Linked DNA regions of Homo sapiens. The protein of the gene in region 1 purifies or fractionates together with the protein of each later gene. This does not show direct contact. Each region holds a gene or a part of one and is shown in the gene's direction. Other genes may lie near its edges. The genes, in order: OGDH, SUCLG2, SFXN1, PPP3CA, USP48, EMC2 and SCCPDH.

Region 1 (3,500 bases):
GGAGTGCAGGGTCCCCAGGGAGCGGCTCCTGAGCTGGGTGTTGAAGGGTGAGTAGAAGTTGAGTGGAGGGATACGTTGGAGAAGTGATTCATAAAAAGGAAGGAGGCCGGGCGAGGTGGCTCACGCCTGTAATCCCAGCACTTTGTGAGGCCGAGGCAGGTGGATCATGAGGTCAGGAGATGGAGACCATCCTGGCTAGCACAGTGAAACCCCGTCTCTACCAAAAAAAATACAAAAAAATTAGCCGGGCATGACAGCGGGCACTTGCAGTCCCAGCTACTTAGGAGGCTGAGGCAGGAGAATAGGAGAATAGCGTGAACCCGGGAGGCGGAGCTGGCAGTGAGCCGAGATCGCACCACTGCACTCCAGCCTGGGCAACAGAGCGAGACTCCGTCTCAAAAAACAAAAAAAAGGAAGGAGTGTGGGGGACAGCGAGGGAGTGCCCTGCTGCCCTGGGATACCGCGGGGGTGGGAGTATGGGGTGGAGGCTTGCAGCTCGGAGTGTCCCCAGCAGTCCAAGGGCCCACAGGGCAGGACAGCCCTGGTGCTTCTTGGTGCTGGGCCATGTCACAGCCTTACATGGGCTTTGGGTGCATTTGCTCTGAGACTGCCAAGGAGAGGGTCAGAGCTCTTTCCTAGGTACAGAGAAGCAGGGAAGGGAGTATTGGGAGTCCGAGCAGGCTGGGATGGGCCCTGCCAGGAGTGGATACCCAGCTAGGGGAGGTGAACAGCAGGGAAATTGGTCATCTTTCCTTTTCCCTCCTTCTCTGCCTCTTCTGACCTGAGGCTCCTGTTGAGTGGGAGGGCAGGTGTGTTTCATGGCCTGAAGGTCAAGGCTTGGGTAGCCTTGCTTTTGACCTTCCTTCTGGAATCTTCAGAATCTGATCCTTCACGAGCCTATTGTTCTGTATTTCAGTTAATTATCTTCACCCCCAAATCCCTGTTGCGCCACCCCGAGGCCAGATCCAGCTTTGATGAGATGCTTCCAGGTGGGTGTGAGGGAGATGGGCATTTCCTTGGGGGAAGCTATGTTTGGGGCTTCTTTGCTGCTGCTCTTTTACAGCTCATGGGACTGACATTTGTGATTCTCACTGGCTCTTGCCAGATTTTTGGTTGTAAAGACCCGTGATACATGGCTGGGCACAGTGGCTCACGCCTGTAATCCCAGCACTTTGGGAGGCCGAGGCAGGCAGATCATCTGAGGTCAGGAGTTCGAGGGCAGATCACCTGAGGTCGGGAGTTCGAGACTAGCCTGACCAACATGGAGAAACGCCATCTCCACTAAAAATACAAAATTAGCCAGGCGTAGTGCCACATGTCTGTAATCCCAGCTACTCAGGAGGCTGAGGCAGGAGAATTGCTTGAACCCAGGAGGTGGACGTTGCAGTGAGCTGCTATCACGCCATTGCACTCCAGCCTGGGCAATAAGAGCAAAACTCCGGCACAAAAAAAAAAAAAAAAGTCCCATGATACCAGATGAGGGAGGTCACAGCTTACATTCACGTTGGTCAAATGACATGTCTTAACATGCAGCCCAGGAGCTGTTGCCTCTCACCTGCAAATGCCCCCAAGGACTCCACTAGAGGCAATTAAGTATGTCCAAGATTGAGGGTTAGTGCCGCTGCCTGCGGCCTCCTTCAGCAGGTGAGTGGCAGCTCACCACTGGCTCAGAGGCCCAGCCCCAAAGCAAGCCCTTCAGGACAGAGAAAAAAACACTGGACGGCAGGTCCTGCCAAGTCACATGCCAGCTGCACTTGTGTGAAGGGAGACCCATAACATTGAGATTTCTATAGGGACAGTGGAGTGCAGGATGTTGACACAGCCTTTACCACCCACCAGGGGTCACCAGGCCAGGAAGCCTGCATCCCACCAGTCACCAAACCCCCTTTAGTCTTCAATCAAGGTGAGCCCCTTGTTTTTTGGGGGTTTTTTCCCAATCTTTTTTTATTTTTAATTTTATTTATTTATTTATTTATTTATTTTTGAGACGGAGTCTCGCTCTATCGCTCAGGCTGGAGTGTGGTGGCACAATCTCGACTCACTGCAAGCTCCACCTCCCGGGTTCACGCCATTCTCCCACCTCAGCCTCCCAAGTAGCTGGGACTGCAGGCGCCCGCCACCACGCCTGGCTAATTTTGTTTTTGTATTTTTAGTAGAGACGGGGTTTCACCGTGTTAGCCAGGATGGTGTCAATCTCCTGACCTCATGATCCACCCATCTTGGCCTCCTAAAGTGCTGGGATTACAGGCATGAGCCACCATGCCCAGCCCCCAGTCTTTTTTTATTATGGTAAAATACACAACATAAAATTTACCATTTTGACCATTTTTAAGTATCCAGTTCAGTGTGTTACTGCCTCTATAAATTTGACTACTCTATGGAACTCATAAGTGAAATCATACAGTCTTTGTCCCTTGCGACTGGCTTGTTTCATTTAGTATAATGTCTGCGAGGTCCATCCATGTTGTGTAGCATGTGTCAGAATTTCTTTTTTTTTAAGACTGAATAGCCAGGCATGGTGGCTCATGCCTATAATCCCAGCACTTTGGGAGTTCGAGGCAGGTGGATCACTTGAGGTCACAAGTTTGAGACGAGCCTGGCCAACAGGGTGAAACCCCGTCTCTATTAAAAATACAAAAATTAGCAGGGTGTGGTGGTGCACGCCCTGCTACTCTGGAGGCTAAGGCAGGAGAATTGCTTGAACCCGGGAGGCAGAGGTTGCAGTGAGCTGAGATTGCACCACTGCACTACAGCCTGGGCAACAGAGTAGGACTCCATCTCAAAACAAAACAAAACAAAAAAGACTGAATAGGCTGGGCCCAGTGGCTTACACCTGTAATCTCAGCACTTTGGGAGGCTGAGGCAGGTCGATCACTTGAGGTCACGAATTTGAGACCAGCTTGACCAATATGATGAAACCCCATCTCTACGAAAAATACAAAAATTAGCTGGGCATGGTGGCGCGCACCCGTAATCCCAGCTACTCAGGATGCTGAGGCAGGAGAATTGCTTGAACCTGGGAGGCAGAGGTTGCAGTGAGCCAAGATTGCGCCACTGCATTCCAGCCTGGGTGACAGAGACTCCGTCTCAAAAAAAATAAATAAATAAACTAGCCGGGGGTGGTGGCGCATACCTGTAATCCCAGCTACTCAGGAGGCTGAGGCAGGAGAATCACTTGAACATGGGAGGCAGAGGTTGTGGTGAGCCAAGATCACGCCGTTGCACTCCAGCCTGGACAACAAGAGCGAAACTCCGTCTCAAAAAAAAAAAAAGACTGAATAATACTCCATTATATGTGTATGCCACATTTTGCTCATCCATTCATCTGTCGATGGACACTTGGGTTGCTTCCATGTTTCAGCTATTATGATTAGAGGAGCTGCTATGAACATTGGTGTACAAATATTTCTTTGAGTCCCTGCTTTCAGTTCTTTTGAATATGTACTCAGAAGTGGAATTGCTGGACCATATGGTAATTCTATTTTTAGTTTTTTGAGGAA
Region 2 (2,197 bases), on another chromosome or scaffold:
CTCTCACAAGGCTGCAATCACAGTGTCAGCCGAGCTGTAGTGATCTCAAGGCTTGACTAGGGAAGAATTTGCTTCCAAGATCCCTTATATGGTTCTTGGCCAGATGCACTTCCTCCTTGGCTATTAGACCCAGAGCCTCAGTTCCTCATCAGCCGTTGGCCAGAGTTTGCCCTCAGTTCCTTGCCCAGGTGAGTCTCTCCAGAGGGCAGCTCATAGCAGGGTAGTTTGCTTCATCAGAGTGAAAAAAGAGTTAAAGGGAGCAAGACTGAAGCCACAGGCTTTTGTAACCTAGTCTCAGAAGTGACACTCCATCACTTTTGCCATGTTCTTATCTATTAGAAGTAAGGCTGTGGGTCCAGATCATACTCAAGGGGGACGGATTCTACAAAGATGTGACTACCAGGAGGCAAGAGTGATTGATCTTTGAAAACCATTTTAGAAGCTGCCTTCCACAGCATTTACAAAGTCATATGTTAGTCAAAATAATGCTAGCTCCTGTAACAACAGAAAAATGCAGAAATTTCAGAGTCTTAACATTATAGAAGGGTCTTTCTCATTCCCATAAGGTCTAAGAGGGTGAGTGGGTAAGATGCTTGGCTCCAGAGAGTTATTAAAGTATCCAGGCTGAAGGAGTCATTGCCATCTTCAAGAAGTGATTTGGCTGGGTGCAAGGGCTCATGCCTGTAATCCCAGCATTTTGGGAGGCCACGGCAGATGGAGTCCTTGAGTTTAGGAGTTCAGGACCAGCCTGGGCAATGTGGAAAAACCCCATCTCTACAAAAAATACAAAAAATAGCTGGGCGTGGTGATGTGTGCCTTTAGTCTCAGCTACTTGGGAGGCTGAGGTAGAAGGATCACTTGGGCACCGGAGGCTGAGGCTGCAGTGAGCTGAGATCACACCACTGCACTCCATCTTGGGTGACACAGCGAGAGCCTATCTCAAAAACAAAAAGCAAGACAAAACACAACCAGAACCAAAAAGGTGACTTCCAGGGCTGCCCCAGCTAGGAACACTCCAGAAAGCAGACAAGGAAAACCGAGTGTGAAGAGTCCCTTTGGAGATTGTCATGGCCATGTGACATTCCTTTGGCCTGAACTCAGTCACATGTCCCCTTCGAGATGCAGGGGGGCCTGGGAAATGTAGTTTCTGGCTGGGCAGCTGCTTTCCAGCAATAGCACTCTACTGCAGAAGAGGAGCAGGAGTCTGTGGTGCAAAGCCAGCCAGGCCTGCCACAGATACTGCACCATTTACAAAAATGCTTTTACACTCATTTCATTTGCTTCTCATCACAATCTATACCATCAGCTATACTGTCCTCATTTTTCAAGTAGGTAAGCAGACTAGCATATCTTTAGAACATGCAGCGTTTATAATTACAGAGAACAGTTCAAGTCCCATCTCTGACACTTACCGCCTCTGTGACCATGGAAAAGTTATTTAACTTCTCTGTGCCTCAGTTGCCTTATCTGTAAAATAGGAACAATAGGACTACTCATAGTTTTTGTAAAGATTTCATATGCTGTGTATAAGTTACTTAGCACTGTGCCTGGCATACATAAGCACTTAATGATATTAGTTCTTGGGAAGATTACGAGGATGATAGTGCTCTGTATGGAAACAAAAGTTAAGGCTCAAAGAAGTTAAACGATTTACCCAAAACTACATAACAAGTACATGGCAGAGCCAGCATGGAGATTTTAGGTAGCAGCTTCCCACATTTTATGCTTTCACCTTCCAGAGAGGACTTTCACCAGCTTCCTCTGTAAAAACAGGAGTAGGTGAGCCTTAAGGTGAAGACACAGTGCCAAGCGGCCATCTTCACTGCTGCTTGGGTAGACCCAGGGTCCCAGGGGAATCAGTGCTGCATCATCTTTTCAATCCACCCATTTCTATTTAATCCAGCATTTGCCTCTTTATATGAAATGTGCTGACCCAGTGCCTCTTTTTATCTGCACTCTTTGTGGTAAGGCAAGTTCTCCAAGGCCTATATTTCAAGGTCTTTGTTTATAAATAGGCTCTGTCTTGCCAACTAGATAAAAGCACAGGAAATGATGTAGGATGAGATATTTCATTAGACACTTAAATTCTATTACATTTCTCCTACAGGAGTTGTTCACTCTAAAATGGCAGAAAAGCAGTTCTCATGTTAAATAGTCCCCAAGCACACCTTTGAATGAAGTGACTTGGCCAGAAGAT
Region 3 (3,500 bases), on another chromosome or scaffold:
TAGTTGTTCAAAAGGAGGTTGAATTTTTTTTCTAAATCTTAGCCCCAAAAGAGAATGAAGTGGAGAAGGAAAATAAAGAGTCTGCAGGCAAATTCTCCTTTGACTCCATTCATATAGATATAGGTATAGGTATAAGTGTAGATATAGGCACATTAAAGGTGTATGTGTAGACATAGACATATAGCATTGCAAGTGCTGTTAGGAGGGCCCAGGACCGCTTAGCCTACAAATTGTATCTTTTTTCCCCAAGAGAAGGGATCTGGCATTTATTGAATGTCTATTCTGTACCAGGCTCTCTACAAATTTTATCTTACTTCATCCTCATAGTAACCCTCTGAGCTTGGTGTTATCTATATCTACGGAATGAGGAAACTGATGATCCCAGAGGATAAAAGCTTGCCCAGCACACAGATCCTAAGCCTGTGTGGCCTTATGGCTTTCTCCCTTCCCCAGTACGTCTCCTCTCTGGTTACTGGTGTTCACGTTTTCTGTTCCATGCCGCGGCTGGGCCCAGTGATGGTGGGTATGTGACGGATGCCTCTGTTTTAGGACTACGCCGGCTGTGCTGTTCTGGCAGTGGATTAACCAGTCCTTCAATGCCGTCGTCAATTACACCAACAGAAGTGGAGACGCACCCCTCACTGTCAAGTAAGGCTACGAGAATTGACCACTCTCTGCAGTTCTTCAACCTTCATTTTATTAAGTGGTGATACTCTCCTGTTTAAAAAAGCCTATGTGTGCATATTTTTATATTGTTCAGAATATTATGTAGCATCCTTTTTTGTAGCTTTTTTCTTTTTTAAAGTAAAGTGTTTCATTTTCTCTCTCCCTATCAAGAAAACAGTCTTCTTCCAGCCTGCCTTCTCAGACATTACTCGTGCCTTTGGAGGTACTGGTAGGATGTTACCTCCTTCTCACCCTGGAGCTCATGGCCCTGTAGAACACATGGCAGGCAGCACCGGCCTGGCCTCTGATAAGTGACAGGCTGTTCCGCCATCTACCCTGCCTGAGTTGACAGACACCAACGTTAAGAGTAGAGGAGACAAAGTGTGGTCTCTGCAGAAATCAAGGGGAGACCATGGCGGTGTGAACTTTATATCTGATATGTTTTTAAAATAGCTCATCTGTGGAGTCCAAAAGAAAGCAATGAGTTTTAATTTTTTGTCACCTGTTAAAAAAAAAATAGGCTCACAAGATTAGTTAACCAAAAACGTTAGTTAGCATAATTGTATTACACTTGAAAGAAAAGTGCTTCTCTTTTTTATCACTTAAAATTGCTTTTGACAACACATATTCTTCTACTATTGTTATATGGAACAAAGGATCTTGAAATCTGCAGCCAAGTGGTGTTTATTGCAATTAAAATTTCTTTTAAAAGAAGAGAGAATTGCTTGGGCTTTATAGTTTTTGGATGATAAGACTTAGTATTTTTATACAGTTAAGATATCATTTTTTAAATGGCAGCACTTCATTTTTGCTTTCAGTGTGTATATTAATATTTTGAGAAATATTTTTAAGCAAATATGCCCCAAACATTTAGCCCAATATGCATTCCCCTGTATTCATAGCTTCCTACACACAGCTCCCCTCCTTCTCACGAATACAAAGTCTGTATGTTTATTTATTTATTTTAACCAACTCACTTCAAAGAATACATGTCTACTTTTTTGGAGTTATAGTCAAGATACGTGTGAAGAATCCCATTGTTTATGGATCTGCTTGCTTTTTCTCTAGATTCCCCTACTTGTGGAGTGATAGTGAATGTTGTTTTGTAGACTCTTCATTCTGAATCATGCTCTTTTATATTTCCCTTTTATTTCTTCAAATAATGTTGCACCAGAGTTTCCTGACATGCCCTCGTCGTCCACACGATATCCTTTTTTCTTTTCAGTGAGTTGGGAACAGCTTACGTTTCTGCAACAACTGGTGCCGTAGCAACAGCTCTAGGACTCAATGCATTGACCAAGGTACTCAGATTTTTATTTCCATAATAAAGCTGTTTAATTTGTTATCACCTGCCTGGCTCTAAATCCCTCTATTATTTCTTAAACTAGTTCAAGTCATATGGCTTTCTTGTTATAGTGCTTATCTTCAGCTGCATATTTTAGTTATATCTTCCAATAAGTTTGGGAAGAGTTGTCACCAGTAACACCTACCAGGACTGTGGTCTGTGCCTGACTCTGTGTACGAAGTGCTAAATGTTCACCCATCCTGACAGCCCACCAGAGGCATTGCAGAGGGCAGTGTGCCTCAGGCCACAGCTCTGAAGAGAGGCAAGAGCATCTCTCTCTCTCTCTCTCTCTCCCCACTCCAAAGCCCATACTCCTGCAACCACACTTAGCTACAAGGCCTTAGAAGCTTGCATGGTCCCAGCACACCCATGTGGGAAATATACAAATACTGCTAGGAAAAGTTTTGAAAGCATTCTTGGCCTGAGTTTCTATGCAAATGGGACTCTGCATTTTTCAGAGTTTTCAAGAAGAAATAAGTTATTTCCATTTACTAGTACAGGAAAAATAAGATAAAGCTCTTGAAATTTTCTCCTCTGCAGCATGTCTCACCACTGATAGGACGTTTTGTTCCCTTTGCTGCCGTAGCTGCTGCTAATTGCATTAATATTCCATTAATGAGGCAAAGGTAAGACGAATATGCACTCTTAGTAGGGACATGTGCTTGACAGGAGAGTCTCTTGTAATAATTAGCTTTGTTGAAACTTTCAAATGCTTGTTTTAATATGTATAGGTGAAATTATATGAGATCTTGGATTTCTTTTGAAATACTCTGGGGTTGGGGATGAGGATGGGCGTCTTGAGAAAACAAGCTTAGCGATGAGTTACTGATTATTGAAGCAGACTGAGGAGTGCGGGGAGGGGGCTGATGCTGGAATAGTCTTTCTATGTCCGTATAATAAAAAGTTTAAAAGATATATCTCAAGCTTACATTGAGTTGTGCTTGGGTTGGACAAAGTCTATCCAAAGAAAGTTTATTCTCTAAAATAGATTCCTTTTTTTTCTCCAGAATTTTCTTTTGGGGCTTAAAGTACATTATTCTATATCTTTGGAAGTATTGTTGTAGAACTGGCAAAAATTAAAGGAGAAGAAAGAACAACAAAAGCATTTTGGAATGGATAACGAAAAACAGGGGTAACGGTAGAAGTTATACTTAGTGTTAGTAAATATAGTTAATAAATATACAGTAGGGCCATGTGCGAGTGACTGTTTCCATGTCAGCATATTAAGTTTGTTGACTTAATAATGCTGTGTATTATATCTGTTTCTCATTTGGAAAGTTGCTCAAATTTGCACATGAGCATAGATTGAAGTTAGTGTGTCCACCCTTTGAATCATATTGTTCCTGAAAAAGGTACACCCTGTTTTAAAAGTTTACTAGTGTTGTTTTACTTTTATTTCTATCAAAGGAGGATTAAACTTATCCATGGTATTTAAAAATAGATGTGTCTGCTGGGCGCAGTGGCTCACACCTGTAATCTCAGCACTTTG
Region 4 (3,304 bases), on another chromosome or scaffold:
TCTTATAATTCAGTCCATGTAAAAGAAATTTTCCTAAGTGTTTTCCTAAAGGGTTGTTTGTTATTTATTTAGTGGGCAAAAACCAAAACATTTAATTCAGATAGGCGTACCCAGCTCATAAATTAAATTTATAATTTCTGTGGCATTTTTTTTCTTTTTTTTTTTTTTTTTTTTTTTTTAGCATTTCTGTTTTGTTGTCTGTGCCAGAATCTAGCACTTACAGGAACATTAGTTCTCTTAGCTCCTTTGATGGTCACTGATTTGTTCTTAGAGTTAAAAAATCCTCTGCTCATTTTTCTCATTCATTTTGCACCCCCTTTCTTCTCTTCAGCTACTGTTGAGGCTATTGAGGCTGATGAAGGTAAATTGGCCAGTCCCCTTTCTGTTGTACCTGCAACAGATAAGGGCTCTGCTGGGTGTATTCATTTTTTTGCTGTAGCTTGTACAGAGTGTGTGGGTGTTGAGCTAACAGTTGTGGCTCAGTATTAACCAAAATGTTCTTGCTTTAAAGGGGAAAATGTCCTTCTATGGTTTGTTTGTTTGTTTCTTTCCCTTAAAGCTATGTTTGACTTTTGTATATGATGAATACTATAATCACAGAAAACAAAAGGATTATATATTTTGAATGATGTGGGGTGGGGGTTATGGCAGCTGTTTTGACCAGTAGCTTATAAAACAATAATCTTTGAGCTGAACCATGTCCCTCCCTCAAATCACTTTCAGGCAGCACTGAAGAGAATAAAAATAGCCATCTTAATTCTAGTCTTCAGAAGTTTGTAGCCAAAGGAAAAAAATGTTCATTTAAATAGTGCTTTGTTGTAGTTCAACATTAATTTGTATCTCTAAAAAATATTCCAACATGAGACAGCTGTATATAAGATGAACAGTTCTGGTAATCTTAAATCAAATTGTAACCTACTGGTATTTGTATGAGAATTAACACCAGCAAAATATTATAAAAAGTTCAAAAGCATCTAGTGGCTGTGGAAGTGGCCGATAACAAGAATAGCGAGTATCAAGTAGCACTCAATTGATGAATGTGTACTGAGTGTCTGCTTTGTGCCAGGCACTGTACTAGGAGCTGCAGGGGACATCAAGAAGTGTCCATCTCCAGCTGTGTTCTAGCACTGCTCAAGGACAGTAGAGTCGAACCTTTAGTATTTGCTTTTTACTTGACTGTTGTTTAAATATATAGTTATAAGAGAACTGCATATCAAAATAGTTTTTAATATTTATTATACATACCATATCCTTTGGAAATTTCAAAAATAATAATTTGAAGTTCCCCTTTAAAACAAAATTCTTCAGTTGTATTTTGTTCTTGCAAGGTAACTTTTTTGTTTTTCTCAAAATTATGTGCATATGGTCCTTTGGTGTGATACAAAAAGTGCCACTTTAGACTCTTCCAATTTGTACATGATTTGGATATGGTAGGGGAAACAATAGCACTGTAAGAGAAAATACAACTGCTTCCTAAATAGCAGTGAATAAACTGCTATTTATGTGGGAATTCTCTATTCCTCTTGGCAAATTCTAATCTGCAGTGTGCATTCTTGTTGATAGTTTGGCTGTTTTCTGTGGTTTCTGTGACTCTGTGTTGTGTTAAGTATACTACCAATGTAAATTGCTAATACCCATTGTCTGACCAGCAACTACAGCAGAGCACATTCTTCCATACCAGGATGACAAAAATGATTAGAAATGGAGCCCCATTCCAGAAGTATCCATTGTTCTAGCTACATTTTTAACACTCCCACCCTATTGGCTTTTAAAACCTAGAAATTTCACTTTTACCATTTAAATTAATTAAATCATTTCATAAATGATAATGATGACAAACTTTTATACCTGTTAATTATGATGAAATTATATTCACAGTAGTCTAAAAAAGACAGTAGAGTACCACTTCATGCTATTCTTTTGTATTTCAAAATAATTGAGTTAGTTTTCAGGGTGGGTGCTCATTAGACAGCTCTATTATTTTGCAATTTATTACTAAATTAGAGAAGAATTAACAAGCTTTGCTTTGGGCCTTGGTCTTTCCCCATTTTCGCATCTTATTCCTCTCACAGTTGACTAATCACCATTATGCTAACCTTTAAAATGCAGAGGGGGGAAAAACTATTTCTCATCTTTTAATGAGTATTGAAACAACTGTGTATATCTTTTAGGAATCTCATCCATACTAATAAAAGGCACTGCACATTTGTGTAGGAGTGGCTGGTAAAGTTTCAGCTTGAAACTGCTTTCCTTTTTTTTTTTTTCCCCCCCAAATAAGGTTGGGAGGATAAAGGTACCATGAAATTATCCTTAATCAGCCATGGTGATGCAGCCCAATTGAGCATTGGTGATTGGCCCTGAAATATCTGGCTTGCACTTCACAGGGAGTAAAGCAAACTGATGTCATTGGTTCCCCATTTATGTGTTTTATTTGCAGCTCACCAGTTGGTGTACTCACTGAAGAAATCATTAAGTTTTTTGTACAAATGCCTTACCTATCGCTGTAGCACACCAAAGATTACTTTTTAAAAAAATCAAATATCATTCCCACTTTGAGAATTCCATGTTTTAATTGAATAGGACCAAAACCAGTTCAATGCATTTTTGCTAAATATTGTGAAAGGCATTTTTTTCCTTGTTATTATTTAACCATCACTTACATCTACATTGATCTACTGAGTTTTTCTTTCATTTAGGCAGTAATGGATACCAGATGAACATCAGTTTGACCTGTTCACTGCTGAAGGGCAGACGATACATTTCTACCTAGTGACCTTATCTTGATTTTTTTTTTTAGTTTCTCTTACCTTGTCACTCACTCCACATGCTTCCAAAGTTAAGTGGAGACAGGAGTTTATAATTTCTTTTTTTTTCATGTCATCATTGAGTTGCTTGTCAAGAAGTTCTTTCTGGGATTCTGAGATGGCATGGAAATGCCCCGGTTAATTCCTTTTCTAGCTCCTTTTAGCTCCTGCTTTAAGCCCTTTGCTAGGTTTTTAGGTATAGCAAACATACTGATTCCACTGAATTTGCCATTACCTAGTACAATGGAGGAATACAAAGAGGGACATGCTGCAGCCTGTCTAGGTTAAGGTGTTTGATGCTTATGATGTGGCCAGTTGATGCTGGTTCTAGAGGCTTGTCCCTGAAAGCAGCTTTCCTCTTTATGTGTCCACTTTGGATTTCTTTGAGCTAAACTTTCATGAAGACAGGAGAAATGCTTACATCTTAATAACTTCAAGAGGACATTTTGGTTGGCAAGAGACATTGGCTGTTTTCAAACCTTTGGTTACTTCCGAGTATG
Region 5 (3,500 bases), on another chromosome or scaffold:
AGTGCAGTGGCACGATCTTGGCTCACTGCAACCTCCGCCTCCTGGGTTCAAGCAATTCTCCTGCATCAGCCTCCAGTCTTCAGCCTGTAGCTGGAGTTACAAACGTGTACCACCACACCTGGCTAATTTTTGTATTTCTAGTAGAGACAGGGTTTCACCATGTTGGCCAGGCTGGTCTCAAAACTCCTAACCTCAAGTGATCCTCCTGCCTTGGCCTCCCAAAGGGCTAGGATTACAGGCGTGAACCACCACGCCTAGCCAGTTGATTTATTTTTGTTTGTGTGCATGCGTGAAGTAGTGTGAGAAACAGTCACATGGTCCCAAATTGTTCATTATATGAAAAGGTACATTTCCTTTTCATTCATTCATTCATTCATTCATTCATTCATTCATTTTTTCCAAGACAGAGTCTTGCTCTGTCGCCCAGGCCAGAGTGCAGTGGTGTAATCTCGGCTCCCTGCAACCTCCGTGTCCTGGGTTCAAGGGATTCTTCTGCCACAACCTCCCAAGTAGCTGGGATTACAGGCCCGCACCGCCACGCCCGGCTAATTTTTGTATTTTTAGTAGAGACAGGGTTTCAGGCTGGTCTCGAACTCCTGACCTTGTTATCCGCCTGCCTCAGCCTCCCAAAGTGCTGGGATTGCAGGTGTGAGCCACTGTGTCCGGCCGAAAAGGTGTATTTTCTTTTAACCTTATTCCCACTCATGCTCTGTAGGTAACCAATTTCATTAGTCTCTTGTTTTTCCTTTCTGTATTTCTTTTTGTACAAAATGAGCAGAAATATGTACATGTATATTTTCCTTATATATTTCTTACACATAACAGTATACTAGAGATACTCCTTTGCATTTTGCTTTTTTTACTTAATAATGTGTCCTGGATTTATAAATTACCTTATATCTGTTCATAGATATCTTTTTCATGCTGTGTGTGTGTGTGTGTGTGTGTGTGTGTGTGTGTGTGTTTTACAGTTGCATAGTACTCTGCCATATAGATGTACCATATTGTCTATTTTTGGGCATTTGGGTGGCTTCCAATATTTTGCAATTAACAGACAGTGCTGTAATGAATAACCTTATGAGTGAGATTTTGCATTGTTGGAGGTATAGCCTAAGGAACAGTAAATCCTCAGAAATGAGATTGCTAGGTCTAAAGGTAGTTGTCTATGTAGTTTTGTTAGTGACTGCATTTCTACCAGCAGTATATGCATGCTTTCTTCTCCACACCCTCACAAACTGAGTGTCTTATACTTTCTCAGTTTTGCTAATTTATAGATGAGAAGTGGTATCTCATTTTAGTTTTAATTTGTTTGTCTCTCATGAAACTATGGTCTTTTAAAAATTAAAGGTTTTTTTTTTCCCCTTAGACGAAACTGCAAAGGAAATCCGAATTGCTTGGTTGGTATTGGTGAGCATATTTGGTTAGGAGAAATAGATGAAAATAGTTTTCATAACATCGATGATCCCAACTGTGAGAGGAGAAAAAAGGTAAACCATCATTTTTTAAGCGATTGCTATATGCTGTTTTTTGTTTTTGTTTTTGCTTTTGTTTTGGGCCTGTGATCAGAAAACTCTACTGATTTCAGGTAACCTGTGCAGCTTTAAGATAAGCAGTAGAACTTAAGACTCTAAGCCACTTGAATTGGAACACTTCTTAATGATATGCTTTAAAACAGGCAGCTGCGTAATTCAGTAAGCCTTTAAATAATAGTTTTAGTTTGAATGCTGATTCTATGTTTGCTTTAACATTGCATGTTTTATTTTGAAATCTTAACGCCTCTTTAAAGGAGATGGTAATTCAAGGGAACAAACTCATGATGATAGCACTTTGCTTTCTAGGGCTTGTATTTTATATATAATTTTGCTTTTTAAAAATATACATTAAATTTTCTAGACATAAATCTTAGCATTCACGAAATATCCAAGTTTGTTATATATAGATATTTTAATAAAATAATAATTCTTTGTAAGGTCAGGAATTCCCAACCTTATCTTTGGAAAAAGTTGCAGCCAGTTCCCTCTACCACCGCCAATCTTTAAAATCTCTAGAATATAAAGGAAGTTTTCTGCATAAGTTTTACTTTGTCATTCTGCTGAATGCTGGCAGTTTAGAAATACAGAAAACATAAAACCTATATACGCTTGTTCAAAACCGATCTTTTCTAGAATCCACTGTTCTAATTTTAGATTTAAGTGGCTGGAGAAGACGATATGCTAGAGATGAGCAGTGATGCCGTCCGAAGTCTTTTTCACTCCTGTGGTCAACCCAAAATGGGGCTTTCATGAAAATTATGCCCCACCTCCAGCCAAGAGAAACTTAAGGTGGCTATACCATGTTGGTTGTGACGGTCTTACACATTTTTAATCTGAAAATTTAAGAATAATGCTTAGAAATTGGTTGTTTAAAGGAAAATGGGTTTTATAATTATGAATTTTGTATTTTTGTAGAACTCATTTGTGGGCCTGACTAACCTTGGAGCCACTTGTTATGTCAACACATTTCTTCAAGTGTGGTTTCTCAACTTGGAGCTTCGGCAGGCACTCTACTTATGTCCAAGCACTTGTAGTGACTACATGCTGGGAGACGGCATCCAAGAAGAAAAAGGTGGGTGGAAAGGGGTGGGGGAGAGCTCTCTTCCTGAACATTTTTTTAAACTTTTTTTTTTTTTTTTTTTTGAGTCTTCCTCTGTTTCCCAAGCCAGAGTGAAGTGGCGCCATCTCGGTTCACTGCAACGTCTGCCTCCTGGGCTGAAGCGATTCTCCTGCCTCAGCCTCTTGAGAAGCTGGGATTACAGGCGCCCGCCACCACGCCTGGCTAGTTTTTGTATTTTTAGTAGAGACAGCGTTTCACTATGTTGGCCAGGCTAGTCTCGAACTCCTGACCTCAAGTGATGTGGCTGCCTCGGCCTTCCAAAGTGCTGCGACTACAGGTGTGAGCCACTGTGTCTAGCCTAAACTTATTTTATTATTATTATTATTATTTTTTTAAGACAGTTTCACACTTGTTGCCCACGCTCTAGTGCAATGGCACAATCTCGGTTCACCACAACCTCCGCCTCTCAGGTTCAAGCAATTCTCCTGCCTCAGCCTCCCGAGTAGCTGGGATTACAGGCGTGCACCACCACGCCCGGCTAATTTTGTATTTTTAGTAGAGACGGGGTTTCTCCATGTTGGTCAGGCTGGTCTTGAACTCCCGACCTCAGGTGATCCACCCGCCTCGGCTTCCCAGAGTGCTGGGATTACAGGTGTGAGCCACTGTGCCTGGCCTAAACTTATTTTTTTTATAGAGACAGTGTCTTGCTCTGTTGCCCAGGCTGGTCTTGAACTTCTGGCCTTAAGCAGTCCTCCTGTCTCGGTCTCCAAAAGTGCTGGATTACAGGCATGAACCATGGTGCCAGGCCTTGAATAGCTTTTACCAGCCTGCAAAACCTTTGCACCCCAAGGAGTAATATTTTATCTTTATTTTACAGATGGTATATTGACTTGCTGAAAGCCACAATT
Region 6 (3,500 bases), on another chromosome or scaffold:
ATCAAATAGGCATTTTGTTTTAAAGCTCACAGGGCTGCCAAATGTCTGGCCAAAATGTATTGTGTATGGACTCTTTTAGAACAGTAAAACTATTAAATAATTGGAGATTTTAACCTTACATTAACATATTTTACACTGCTGAAACATGTAAGAATGCATTCTTAGTTTCAGAGATAATACAATAAATCAGTTTTCAGTTATAAGTAATGTTCTCTAGAAATATCAGAAACTAGAATTCATTAATTTCCATTTGGGTTTGTTTTAATATTAAATTCAGTTTTTTTCCCCCTTTATGTGTATCTAGTTTGGATCATATATGAACAGGTGATGATTGCAGCACTAGACTATGGTCGGGATGACTTGGCATTGGTAGGTATTTAAATGAAGTATATATTTAATTTGCTTCATCAATTGTATACCGTAGTTAAGACTTAATGTATGGCTTATATGGAATGCTTTCAATAGCTAGTTTTGAGTGCTACTCTGAACAGTAAGTGGAACTAACTAGATATTTTAGGACAAAGTATCTTATATCTTTTTATTAGTCCTGAGAAGTAGCTGTTTAGTATCCCAGTTTTACTGTAAAGATTTAGTTACTGAAATTTATCTGCTTAGTAAGTGACTTATCCTATTTTATAGAGTTTAAAATAAGAAAGTTTAAAACAATTTTGTATTTTGTGTTATTGAATGACTTTCACAGAATGTAATGTTCAATACTGTTACACAATATTATAAACATATCTGACATAAGAAAATCCCGACGTATAGAACATAACATAAAATACTAATAATGTTTGGCCAGGCAAGGTGGCTCACACCTGTAATCCCAGCACTTTGGGAGGCCGAGGCAGGCAGACCACCTGAGGTCAGGAGTTCGAGACCAGCCTGGCCAACGTGGTGAAACCCCGTCTCTAGTAAAGATACAAAAAATCAGCCAGGCGTGGTGGAGCGTGCCTCTAGTCCCAGCTACTCTGGGGGCTGAGGCAGGAGGATCGCTTGAACCTGGAAGGCAGAGATTGCAGTGAGCTGAGATTGTGCCACTGCACTCCAGCCTGGGCAACAGAGCGAGACTCTGTCTCAAAAAAAAAAAAGAAAAAAATCAAACAAACCTAATACTGCTTTTAAAATAACACTGTAATGGTAGCTATGTTTTTGGACTCATGCTAGGAACGAAGCTAAATGCTTTACATCATGATTTTATTGAGCCTTCATAATTATTTCTTGATTTGATTTGTGTTTGATGTTATTATTATATTTATTTTATAAATCAGAAAGCAGAGGCATCTGTTAATGTTGTTCCTATCATCTTGAATTCTTAAGTACCGCTTCATGCTGCCTCTGTATTTAAACTGAAAGAAAATATGCAAAAACAAAAAATTGAAATACCTGAAAAAAATTCACATCTGAATTAGTATTGTCCTTTTCAAGGTTGGGTTGGCTATACATGTAATTCTAGTGGAGCTGTTAGTGATGAAAACATTCCACAAAACCTTTGTTGGATTACCTTCAGAACCTATGAGACATAGTCTTTTGAATATTCATAGAGGTGACCGTTTTATGTCTTGAGAGAGGTTTTTATTTTTATTTTTTTTGAAATAGCCAAATATCACTTGATAAAGTAGGAAGTCAAATTAGATAACACTATTGATTAATAAAGCAGTATACACAATTAAACAGTAACTTTATAATGGTTAAGATTATTTATACAGTTAGCTTGCTTGACTGACCAAGTAATATGATTTTGCTTGATATCAAAGAAATAAATGAACATATCTTCACTTTTGATTAACTTGAATATTTTTCTTAGTGTGGCAAATTTCAGCCACAAACTTTGAAGCTGTATTTCCAATTCATATTAAAACTTATTTTATTACCAGTTAATAGTTTCATCAGTAGTTAATGGCATTGTTTTGGTCACACATGCATTAATATGCTTCAGTGGACTATTTGTATCATCTTTAACATTTCTAGGACTTCCAAAACTTTGAATCCTTCATATGTTGCTGAGAATGTAGATACTCAGTAAATATTTGATTATTTATTTAGTCAAGTTGATGAGTCAATTATGGATACTTGTTCAAAGAAATTGGTATTCCATCCGTTTAATGTCTGTATTTTCTGACCCCAAATCAGGATATGTTGATTGAAAGGATGATTGATTGGCTGGGTGCGGTGGCTCATGCCTGTAATCCCAGCAGTTTGGGAGGCCAAGGCAGGCGGATCACCTGAGGTCAGGAGTTCGCGACCAGGCTGGCCAACATGTTGAAACCCCGTCTCTACTAAAAATACAAAAATGAGCTGGGTGTGGTGACAGGCGCCTGTAGTCCGAGCTACTTGGGAGGCCGAGGCAGGAGAATCGCTTGAACCCAGGAGGTGGAGTTTGCAGTGAGCCAGGATCGTGCCACTGCATTCTAACCTGGGTAACAGAGCAAGACTCCATCTCAAAAAAAAATAAGAAAGGTTGGCTGATTAATATAAAATTTCAACAGGGCAAAATTAATCAGTGTTTATGTTATTTGCTAGGAACTTGAGATGACTACTAAAAAACTTAGTTCTTACCAGGAGAATGCTTATGCTGTAATTAGGAAGAAAACGCCAGGCGCTGTTGTCATTTAAGTAGGGGCCTGACACATTATAGAAGTAGTTTTTAAGGAGGAATAATATGATATTAGTACTTAAAGAGTTATTAGTGGTTCTCATAATCTGTTCATTTTCCTGGTTAAGAGCATGATCAGTTTCTGAGAACTGATTGTTGCCTTCACTGTAATGTCATAGTGCTTCTTTCAATCCATTATTTGTTACTGATTAATTTCACTTCATGTTATTAGATGACACTAATGAAATTATTCAAGAAGACACATTGAAGACTATATAGGCCATCCATTGTAGCCCATTTAGTATAAATAATGTAATTACTACTCAACCCTTATTTTTTCAGTTTTGTCTTCAAGAGCTGAGAAGACAGTTCCCTGGCAGTCACAGAGTCAAGCGATTAACAGGCATGAGATTTGAAGCCATGGAAAGGTAACCAAATCTTATCAGCTGGCAGGCATGGAGCCTGTTAATCATGGTGGTGTTAATTTTTTTTTTTTTAATTCAGACATTCTAGAGTGTGTGGAATACTGTCTCAATATGGCTTTAATTTACATTTTTTGATGACTAATGAGGTTGAAAACCTTGTCATGTTTGCTTAGATATTCAAATAACTTCTTTTTGAAGTATCTTCTTTAGTCTTTACCCATTTAAAAAATTGCGTTATTTTACCTTTTTTACTGCTGATTTGTAGGAGGTCTTTATATATTCTGGATAAAAGCTTTGTCAGATATATGTGCTGTGAATATTTCTCCCTATTCTCTTGCTTGAATATTTTATTTTCTAAATGGTGCCTTGTGAAGTTTTTAGTTCTGATGAAGTTCAGTTTATCATTTTTTTTTTAATGCTTAGTCATTCTTTTGTCCTGTCCAATAATTCTTTTCTAATGTTTCAACAATATTCGGTAG
Region 7 (3,500 bases), on another chromosome or scaffold:
TAAGGAGTTGGGCACGTTGGCTCATACCTGTAATCTCAGCACTCTGGGAAGCCAAAGTGGGTGGATCACTTGAGGCCAGGAGTTTGAGGCCAGCCTGGCCAACATGGCGAAACCCCATCTCTACTAAAAATACAAAAATCAGCCAAGCATGGTGGTGCACGTCTGCAATCCCAGCTACTCAGAAGGCTGAGGCATGAGAATCACTTGAACCCAGGAGTTGGAGGTTGCAGTAAGCCAAGATTGCGCCACTGCACTCCAGCCTGGGCAACAGGGTCGGATCCTGTCTCAAAACAACAACAACAAACCTATTAAAGAACCAGAGGGCTGGGTGCGGTGGCTCACACCTGTAATCCCAGTGCTTTGGGAGGCCGAGGCAGGCGGATCACGAGGTCAAGAGATCGAGACCATCTTGGCCAACATGGTGAAACCCCATCTCTATTAAAAATACAAAAGTTAGCTGGGCGTGGTGGTGCACGCCTGTAGTCCCAGCTACTTGGGAGGCTGAGGCAAGAGAATCGCTTGAACCTGGGAGTCGGAGGTTGCAATGAGCCAAGATCATGCCACTGCACTCCAGCCTGGCGACAGAGTGGGACTCCGTCTCAAAAAAAAAAAACCCAGAGTATTTAAAGAACTTTTACAAGACAATAATAGAAATAAAGACAATTTATTTTAAAAATGGGCAGGGGATGTAATCCTAGCACTTTGGGAGGCCGAGGCACGTGGATCACCTGAGGTCAGGAGTTTGAGACCAGCCTGACCAACATGGAGAAACCCTGTCTCCACTAAAAATAGAAAATTAGCTGGGCGTGGTGGCAGGTGCTGTAAACCCAGCTACTCGGGAAGCTGAGGCAGCAGAATCGCTTGAACCCGCGAGGTGGAGGTTGCAGTGAGCCGAGTCTGCACCATCGCACTCCAGCCCGGGCAACAGTGCGAGACTCCGTCTCAAAACAAAACAAAACCAAAAAGGCAGGGATGAGAAGAGACAAATCTTCTTTGTGGAAGAATTCCAAATGATTTATGTAGCTTCTCCACATTTATGTGCAAGCAGCTGTGTGTGTGACTGAGTGTGTTAATGTGTTTGTATGTGTGTGACTATGTTAGTGTGACTTAATGTGTTTGTGTGTGCATGAGCAAGTGTGTGTGTGTGATTGTGTTCGTGTGTGTTTGTGTATGTGCATGAATGGGTGTGTGTGGTGTGTGTTTGTGTCTGGTATGTGCTTGAACAGGTGTGATTGTGTTTGTGTGTCACCTTCTGGGAGAGGGAGCATAAATTGACAGTGGAGAAACCTGGTGAACACTGCCTCAGCCAGGTGTTCAAGTCAGCATTAACCCTGGTAAATCATGTTGACAGTGCGTAGCCCCGATGTGATATGATATGATAAGAATAGCACTTTACCCCTGTGGTCTCTTTCCAAAACTCATAATAATAATGAGAAAAGCATGAGACAAATTCCAGTAGAGGGGCACTCTACAAAATGCCTGACCAGTACTCCTCAAAACCATCAAGGTCATCAGAGACAAGGAAAGTGTGAGAAACCGTCGCAGCCAAAAGAAGCCGAAGGAGACGTAACAACCGAATGTAATCCTGGATGGGATCCTGGAGCAGAAAAAGGGGTTCAGTTAAAACTAAGGGAATCAGAATGAACTGTGAACTTTAGTGAATTAAATCATATATGTCAGTACTGGTTCATTAATTGTAACCACTGTTCATGTAAAAGATGTTAAAAATAGAGAAAACTGGGTTTCAGAGTACTTGGGAACTCTCTACTATTCAATTTTTCTGTAAATCTTAAACTGTTTTTAAAAAGGAATTTCTAAAAACAGGCAGAAGAGCAGAGCAGACATTATTCCCCTGTGCCCTCTGCCACCATCTACTTTCCTGCTCTCTGTCTGTACGTGTGCGGAGCTTTATGTCTGTGATGATGTTCATCTGGGTAATGCTGTTTGGGGTCATTTTTTTTTTGCTTTCTATTTTTTATATTTTAATATTTTATAATAGGCATTACTTTTATATTTAAAAGTCATTCTAAAAAAATTAAGTGTCATACAGTCAGACGAGCACAACTTCTGTACCACCTGGTGTGCAGTAGGCGCTGTATTTGCCGAATAAGTGGAAAATATTTTGACAGTTAATGTTTTGCTGCAGAGCCACACTGCTTAGCATTTTCAAAGTTTGGTTGCTTTGTTTTTAAAGATAAATTATTTAATACTGGTCTACATCTTTCTGCATAACTAATTAAAATTCTTATCCTGGATTTTTTAGTTTCTGGAACTAATGCAACTGAAGTATCATGAGAAAGCTGCAGACAAAGGGGTTTATATCATTGGAAGCAGCGGCTTTGACTCCATTCCAGCAGATCTGGGAGTAATATATACCAGAAATAAAATGAATGGTAATTATTGATCAATAAGCAATAATGGAATTTAACAGTACCGTGCAAAGGCTTCATGTTTCTAACTGTGGTGAACTAAAATCTAGTTGAAAAAAGAAACATAGCCATAAATGGGTAATATTAAACACATGTTTTGTTTTTAATATAGCTGCACTTTTAATAAAATGCTATTGAGACTATTGTTGAGACATGGATAATACTGTATTTTACAGTGATATATTATTGTCTCAGTATAGTTTGGGCTGTAAAATTTCTGGAAAACAACTTTGGCAACGTTATAAATTCAAACTTGCTTTGTTTAGGAATCAGCACATTTTAAAGCATAATTTGTATATTATAGTTAAAAGGTTTTAAATTTTTAACCGTCAAAGCTAGAAAGTATTGAACACAGAATTGGAGACACTTATTTAAGAATGGAGAAAATAATGTTACGATAAAACATTTGAAGTTACTGATGTTTTGCATATTTAAGAGTGTCTGGTTTAGAAAATTACCTGAGCAGGGTGTGGTGGCTTACACCCATAATCTTAGCTACTTGGGAGGTTGAGGCAGCAGGATCTCTCGAGGCCAAGAGTTCAGGACCAGCCTGGGCAACATAGTAAGACTCGTCCCTAAGAAATAAAAAAAAATTAGCCAGGTGTGGTGGTGCACACCTGTAGTCAGTCCCAGCTCCTCAGGAGGCTGAGGTAGGAGGATCACTTGAACCCAGGAGTTTGAGGCTTTAGTAAGCTATGATTGCACCACTGCACTCTAGCCTGGGTTACAGAGTGAGACCTTGTCTCTTAGAAAAAAGCAAAAAAACAAAAAAACAAAAACAAAAAACAAAACTGAAACAGGTAACTTCAGTACCATATAAAGTGTTCTAGACTTAAAAAATTGGAAAATGTTCCAGCATATATTAAAAAGTTAGCATAACTATGAAACCAAAGTCCAACAAAGATAGCACACACACACACAAACTACAAATCTTGCTTATGAAATTAAAAGTAAAAAGAAAATACTATATAAAATTTTAATCCAGTGCCATTTTAAAAAGTTTTTTAAGAGACAGGATCTTGCTCTGCCGTAGCTCACCGTAACGAATGCCTGGGCTCAGGCAGTGCTCCC

What was found.
Region 2: the proteins of OGDH (region 1) and SUCLG2 purify together in Homo sapiens (affinity purification with mass spectrometry; 2 studies listed by BioGRID, with this or other methods). This does not show direct contact.
Region 3: the proteins of OGDH (region 1) and SFXN1 fractionate together in Homo sapiens (co-fractionation; one large-scale study listed by BioGRID). This does not show direct contact.
Region 4: the proteins of OGDH (region 1) and PPP3CA fractionate together in Homo sapiens (co-fractionation; one large-scale study listed by BioGRID). This does not show direct contact.
Region 5: the proteins of OGDH (region 1) and USP48 fractionate together in Homo sapiens (co-fractionation; one large-scale study listed by BioGRID). This does not show direct contact.
Region 6: the proteins of OGDH (region 1) and EMC2 fractionate together in Homo sapiens (co-fractionation; one large-scale study listed by BioGRID). This does not show direct contact.
Region 7: the proteins of OGDH (region 1) and SCCPDH fractionate together in Homo sapiens (co-fractionation; one large-scale study listed by BioGRID). This does not show direct contact.

The regions. Positions count from the first base shown.
Region 1 is NC_000007.14:44,700,627-44,704,126, forward strand, and holds part of OGDH (2-oxoglutarate dehydrogenase complex component E1 isoform 1 precursor), read left to right. Parts: intron 1-916; coding exon 917-989; intron 990-3,500. UniProt on the Homo sapiens protein: 2-oxoglutarate dehydrogenase (E1o) component of the 2-oxoglutarate dehydrogenase complex (OGDHC). Participates in the first step, rate limiting for the overall conversion of 2-oxoglutarate to succinyl-CoA and CO(2) catalyzed by the whole OGDHC.
Region 2 is NC_000003.12:67,376,416-67,378,612, reverse strand, and holds part of SUCLG2 (succinate--CoA ligase [GDP-forming] subunit beta, mitochondrial isoform 2 precursor), read left to right. Parts: intron 1-2,107; coding exon of another isoform or gene 2,108-2,151; exon of another isoform or gene 2,152-2,197. UniProt on the Homo sapiens protein: GTP-specific succinyl-CoA synthetase functions in the citric acid cycle (TCA), coupling the hydrolysis of succinyl-CoA to the synthesis of GTP and thus represents the only step of substrate-level phosphorylation in the TCA.
Region 3 is NC_000005.10:175,509,560-175,513,059, forward strand, and holds part of SFXN1 (sideroflexin-1), read left to right. Parts: intron 1-549; coding exon 550-648; intron 649-1,891; coding exon 1,892-1,967; intron 1,968-2,551; coding exon 2,552-2,637; intron 2,638-3,500. UniProt on the Homo sapiens protein: Amino acid transporter importing serine, an essential substrate of the mitochondrial branch of the one-carbon pathway, into mitochondria.
Region 4 is NC_000004.12:101,026,223-101,029,526, reverse strand, and holds part of PPP3CA (protein phosphatase 3 catalytic subunit alpha), read left to right. Parts: intron 1-331; coding exon 332-361; intron 362-3,304. UniProt on the Homo sapiens protein: Calcium-dependent, calmodulin-stimulated protein phosphatase which plays an essential role in the transduction of intracellular Ca(2+)-mediated signals. Many of the substrates contain a PxIxIT motif and/or a LxVP motif.
Region 5 is NC_000001.11:21,755,650-21,759,149, reverse strand, and holds part of USP48 (ubiquitin carboxyl-terminal hydrolase 48), read left to right. Parts: intron 1-1,366; coding exon 1,367-1,487; intron 1,488-2,445; coding exon of another isoform or gene 2,446-2,447; coding exon 2,448-2,604; intron 2,605-3,500.
Region 6 is NC_000008.11:108,450,124-108,453,623, forward strand, and holds part of EMC2 (ER membrane protein complex subunit 2), read left to right. Parts: intron 1-277; coding exon of another isoform or gene 278-304; coding exon 305-369; intron 370-2,938; coding exon 2,939-3,024; intron 3,025-3,500. UniProt on the Homo sapiens protein: Part of the endoplasmic reticulum membrane protein complex (EMC) that enables the energy-independent insertion into endoplasmic reticulum membranes of newly synthesized membrane proteins.
Region 7 is NC_000001.11:246,737,909-246,741,408, forward strand, and holds part of SCCPDH (saccharopine dehydrogenase-like oxidoreductase), read left to right. Parts: intron 1-2,263; coding exon 2,264-2,393; intron 2,394-3,500.